Linked DNA regions of Homo sapiens: region 1 is linked to region 2. The links come from fine-mapping of genetic effects on gene expression. A gene starts in region 2. The other region holds a variant in brackets. All regions are shown on one strand. Distances are from middle to middle.

Region 1 (2,898 bases), 21 kb after region 2:
CAGATTTTTATAATAGGGACAGTCATCAGCTTAACTTTATTGCACATCTATCAAGCATAGTAGACTTCATTTTTTATAACACTTTTCTAGAAGACCTAAAATTGTTACCTTCTGAGGAAATTGTTAATTTTTTTTCTGTCCAGCAAAGTTACCTAAAATAAAGGGAGAGAGATTTCCATCTGTTTTCCAGACCCTTAAAGTAGTATTGGCACTGAGAATAAGCAGCTGAGAACTAATAAAGCGTGTGTATAATCACATTGTAGAATTAGAAAACCCAGTGATAAAATTGCATTTTCTAGCAGCTTATCTAAATTTATGTATATATTTTTTCCTATTATCAAAGTTGTTGCAAGAAAGATGTTTTATCAGTTGTAGAAAGTGTTTGGGGTTCATATATTCTCAAGAATCTAGTTTTTGCATTACATTTTTGTTGCATTAGGATATTAAGTCTCTAGGTTCTTTTTTTTTCTTCTCGAGACAAGAGTCTTGCTCTGTCGCCCAGGCTGGAGTGCAGTGGCACGATCTCGGCTCACTGCAACCTCCACTTCTGAGTTCAAGCGATTCTCCTGCCCTCAGCCTCCCAAGTAGCTGGGATTGTAGGTGCCCGCCACCACGCCTGGCTAATTTTTATATTTTTAGTAGAGACAGGGTCTCTATCTCCTGACCTCAGGTGATCTATTTGAAGTGGTTTTCATTGTGTTGTAATTGAAGAGCTTTGGCAACCCTCAAAATGCTGATTGAACACCTTGTCCTTTCTTGCAAATTTCATTCCTTACATGTAAGAGAGAGGTTTGTAACTACTTATGCATGGGTTTACTGCAGGTTGTACTCTACTCAAAAAAAAAGTCAAGAAACTCTTTTGAATAATTAGAGTCCCTAATGCCAGACATTTCTGATTTCTTTCTTTTTTTTTTTTTTTTTTTTGAGACCGAGTTTCACTCTTGTTGCCCAGGCTGGAGTGAAATGGCACGATCTTGGCTCACTGCAACTTCTGCCTCCCAGGTTCAAGCAATTCTCCTGCCTCAGCCTCCCGAGTAGCTGGGATTACAGGCGCCTGCCACCACGCCCGGGTAATTTTTGTATTTTGAGGAGACACGGGGTTTCACCATGTTGGCCAGACTAGTCTATAACTCTTGACCTCAGGTGATCCACCCACCTCGGCCTCCCAAAGTACTGGGATTACAGGCGTGAGCCACCACGCTTGGCCTCTGATTTCTTCAATAGTGTTTAAAAAATAATGGGTTTTTTTCATTGTCCTAAACCATCTAAAGTACTCATAGAATATTAAATATGTAACATCCTAAGATATTTGTAGCTATGTCTACCTATCTGTGTGTTTTGACTTGGGATAAGTATTAACATTGGTTTCTGTGCATTTCAGATGACCACCTAAGAAAGGAGGAACAGAAAAGTACTAACATTGAAGATCTTCATGTTTCTCAGGCAGTCAACAGATAATGCTTTGTTTGGGGTATCTTTTGTCTTAAAATTGTATTATTAATTAAATAACTTATTTATTGTC[C/T]CAATGTTACCAAAATGCACCACTAATGTTTGTAGAAATTGGAGTTTCTACAAAACACCCCTCATGTTTAACTACATTTGTGAATAAAAGCTAACTCTTGTCATCTAGCTTATTGGATTTGACTTGAAAAAAAAAGTATTGTTTTTACGAAGTATTTTTTGTTTTTTTGAGATGGAGTCTCGCTCTGTCACCCAGACTGGAGTGCAGTGGCACGATCTCGGCTCACTGCAATCTCTGCCTCCCGGATTCAAGTGATTCTCCTGCCTCAGCCTCCCAAGTAGCTGGGAAAACAGGCCTGTGCCACCACACCGGAGTAGTTTTTGTATTTTTAGTAGAGATGGGGTTTCACCATGCTGGCCAGGCTGGTCTTGAACTCCTGACCTCAGGTGATCTGTGTGCCCCAGCCTCCCAAAGCGCTGGGATTACAGGTGTGAGCCACTGAGCCCAGCCATTTAGGAAGTATTATAAAGGCCCTTAAAGTTTGTAAGGAAATGAAAGGGCTTTGTATTACCTTTTCAATAGGCAACAATGTACTTTTTCTTTCCTTAGACTTTGGCTTACTGGAAGATTTAATTAAAAGGTAGAGGAGAAGTAAATTTGCTGTAATAATTTTGCTGTAAATAAAACAAAGAGTTTATTTTATTAGATAAAGAATGTGAAGTAAGCATGAAGAGACAGGCTTTGGGAGAAATACCAGAAAGGGATTTTTCAAAGATGGCATTGTTTAATCTCCGTGTGGCCCTCGGTTGTGCAATCACAGATGAGCCAGAAGAGGGCCAGCCCCCTACTTGTTTGGGCTCCGAAACTCTTACCAAACATCAATTTTTATTCTTGGGATAGAAAAATAGTATGTGCTATCTCTAATACGCTACTTCGATATTTATTAAAGAAGTATTTTTAATGTAGTGTCCACAGGCTCATTTCATTGAAAACAACTGACTATGATGATAGACAGCTCCTGATTGGCAAAAGTTCGATGGTATATTCAGAATTAAATTTTGCCTGCACACCTAAACACTGACAACATTTAGCTTAAAGGTTTTCCATGGAGAAGAGTGGTAAGAGCTGTAGTTAGCAAAATTGGCATCCTCTTTAGGGTGTCAATTCTGTGCTGCTTTGCAAATTGTTGAAACTTTTGATTTTCTGTTTGGCAATGCTAGTCAGTGTTCACTTCTTACAGATTAGCCAAGAATTTTTATCTAAATGCAGAAACTTATTAATGAAATCCATTTAAACTATACTTACACAACATTTTGGGAGGCCCTGCTGGTAAAATTATATATGGATGCAGAAGTATTGCAAGAGTCCATTTTCCATTTTTAAATCTGCAATATCTGATTACATTGATGAATTCCGTTGTATTGTATGTGTGAATA
Region 2 (2,916 bases):
GGGATTACAGGCTCCTGCTACCACGCCCGGCTAATTTTTGTACTTTTTTTTTAGTACAGAGGGGGTTTCACCAGGCTGGCCAGGCTGTTCTCGAACTCCTTACCTCAGTCTCCCAAAGTGCTGGGATTCCAGGCGTAAACCACCGTGCCCTGGCAGCTCTTAGGTGTACTTTTTTTTTTTTTTTTTTGAGACGGAGTCTCACTCTGTCGCCCAGGCTGGAGTGCAGTGGTGCCATCTCGGCTCACTGCAAGCTCCACCTCCCGGGTTCACGCCATTCTCCTGCCTCAGCCTCCCGAGTAGCTGGGAGTACAGGCGCCCGCCAGCACGCCCGGCTAATTTTTTGTATTTTTAGTAGAGACAGGGTTTCACCGTGTTAGCCAGGATGGTCTCGATCTCCTGACCTCGGGATCCGCCCGCCTCGGCCTCCCAAAGTGCTGGGATTACAGGCGTGAGCCACCGCGCCCGGCCACTCTTAGGTGTACGTCTAATCGATGTTTATTATTTAGCCAAGTGTTTGGATCTCACCGGCATTACAACTGGAATCATGCAACCTCACACTCAGTTTAGGGTACATTATTCCCCTGTTCCTTTTCCTTTACTTCCATGGGATGTTGGAGCTTATTCCTTCATTAGTTAGTTCCATAAAAAGCTCCTGGACTCCTTACATGCACTGTGTAAGTGCGAGTGGAAGAGGACAGGCTGGTGACCTTGGTTAAGTCTCTTCAGCGATGGAGGACTCTGTTTCCTTCATTGTAAAAACGGCGTGATCATAAGGAAATAATGCGCTAAGGCGTCACAGTAAGTGCTTAATACAGTGGTTCTCGAGGTGTGATCTCCAGACCGACCAGCAGTACCAGTACCACCTGGGAACTCGATAGAAATGCAAATCCTAGGGCCTCACCCCAGATTTACAGAATCAGAAACTCTATGGGGAGGACTAGCAAACAATCCGTTTAAACAAGTCTTGGAGGTGATGAGGATTCATGCTCAAGTTTGAGAACCGCAGGGTTAATAGGTGGTAACTACTAGCAGTTGGTACTTGAGGCTGCAGAGACAATGAAAAACTCAGCTGGCTAAAGTTAAGCACTAAGGTGCCAGCAGCACCCCACAGGGCTCTCCACTGCCTCAGTCCCCGCCCTCCCTGCCGTCTCACTCAACTGGGCCTTCCGAGAGCGCTCGCTGATTGGTGGAGTCTCTGGTCGACATTCACTACCCACTCAACCGCAGAGCTCATAAACTGAGAGGGGCGGAAGTGGGCGGGGCGAGAGCTGTGCGCCTATTGGCTACAGACCACGCCGCAGGGTGAGTGGGGCGGAGCTGCGCGTGCGCAGGGCCGCGGTGCGGCCCTGGCGGCCGTTGAAAAATGGCGACTGTGGCAGAGTTGAAGGCTGGTGAGTGCGAGCAGGGAGGCCTCCACATGGGAAGCGTCGGGCCTTCATCTTGTGGAAAGGATGGGATGGGAGGAGAGCGCGCGGAACACATGGGTTGGCTTTTACAGGCGTCATTCTTCGGTGTGAGGGCCTGCGGGGAGCGTCTGGCTGCTGTCTTGGCCCGTGCGCGGGGAGCTCTTATGGGGAAGAGGTTGCCCACTGGCGAGTTTTAAGCCAGTTTGGAGCTAAAGGAGGAGTTGCGTAATCTTCAGGCATCTAAGAGGCCTACAGGCCTGCATCTTGGGCCCCTGGCTCATCTTCTTGGACCCTGCCGGGGGCTGGAGGACTTGGACCAGGCTTGGCACTCAGGGCTGATGACTACAATTCCCACAACCCCTATTGGGTTAGGCACTGCCCTAAACAATTTGCTTGGTTGTCTCGTTGGGTCCTTACAACAACCTGTTAAGTAGCCCTCCCCTCCTTGCTTTTTTTTTTTTTTTTTAAAGAGAGGGTCTCTCTGTCGCCCAGGCTGGAGTGCAGTAGCGCGATCACAGCTCACTGCAGCTTCGAACTCCGGGACTCCAGCTATCCTCCCACCTCAGCTTCCAGAGCAGGTGGGAATACAGGGGCTCTTCACTACGCCCGGCTAATTTTTGTATTTTTTGTAGACACGGGGTCTTACTGTCGAACTCCTGGTCTCAAGCTATCCTCCTGCCTTGGCCCCCTCAAAGTGCTGGGATTACAGGTGTGAGCGCCTGGCCCCTTTTTCATCAGAAGAAACTAGAGGCAAAAAGTTTGCTGGCCTGGCCATTCTCCTGTCTTTTCAGGAAAAGATACTCTAAGCTAGTTATGTTTGAGTCATTAATGACATTTGTACGCTGTTTACTTTGAAGCAAATGTCCAGACAAGTAATAGTAATAATAGTTATCATTGAGCCTCATGTGTCAGGCACTACTCAACTCAGCCTGTGTGTTACCTGATTGTAACAACCCTATGCCCATTTCATAGACTGGGAAACGAGGTACTGAGAAGTGAAATAGCTCAAAGTGATTTCACTGGAAAGAGACACAGCATGGGAACCTAGTTGTGACGCACTGGAGCGCCAGGTCTTAATCACTGAGCAAGATTGCTGTCCAAAAAATAAAACCAGTTCCACTTTGCAGGGAACCCAGGGTTTAAACTAGTAATTCTTAGATATTTTAGGGAGGAGACGTGTATAAAAGTGTGTATTTGGGGACAGGGCTGGTGAACAATCATAAAACAGAACAGGCATGCATCTGTCCACAAGAACAGACTTCACGAGTCTACAGATGCTGTTCCCAGGGAAATACACATCACATGTAATATTGCATACATTTTCAGAGGATTTAAAGGTACACTTGGAATGGGCCAAGCACAGTGGCTCATGCCTGTAATCCTAACACTTTGGGAGGATCGCTTGAGCCCAGAAGTTTAAGACCAGCCTGGCCAACATGGTGAGACCCCATCTTTATTTAAAAAATAAAAATTAAAAAAAAGAGCCGGGCATAGTGGCCTGTGGTAGTTC

Evidence for each region. PIP is the estimated chance that this variant, and not a neighbour inherited with it, causes the effect.
Region 1: its variant is fine-mapped to the expression of CEP20 in whole blood (TOPMed, PIP 0.95).

Annotation. Positions count from the first base shown.
Region 1 is chr16:15,866,000-15,868,897 of GRCh38, reverse strand. CEP20 (centrosomal protein 20) reads left to right here. Exons shown (of 5, transcript NM_144600.4): 5 at 1,382-2,898. The coding sequence ends at 1,458. Among named protein-coding and RNA genes, the nearest start is that of MYH11, 10 kb to the right of the region's middle. The variant C/T (reference allele first, on the strand shown) is at 1,523.
Region 2 is chr16:15,887,033-15,889,948 of GRCh38, reverse strand. It overlaps CEP20 (centrosomal protein 20), which reads left to right and starts at 1,346. Exons shown (of 5, transcript NM_144600.4): 1 at 1,346-1,391. The coding sequence starts at 1,364.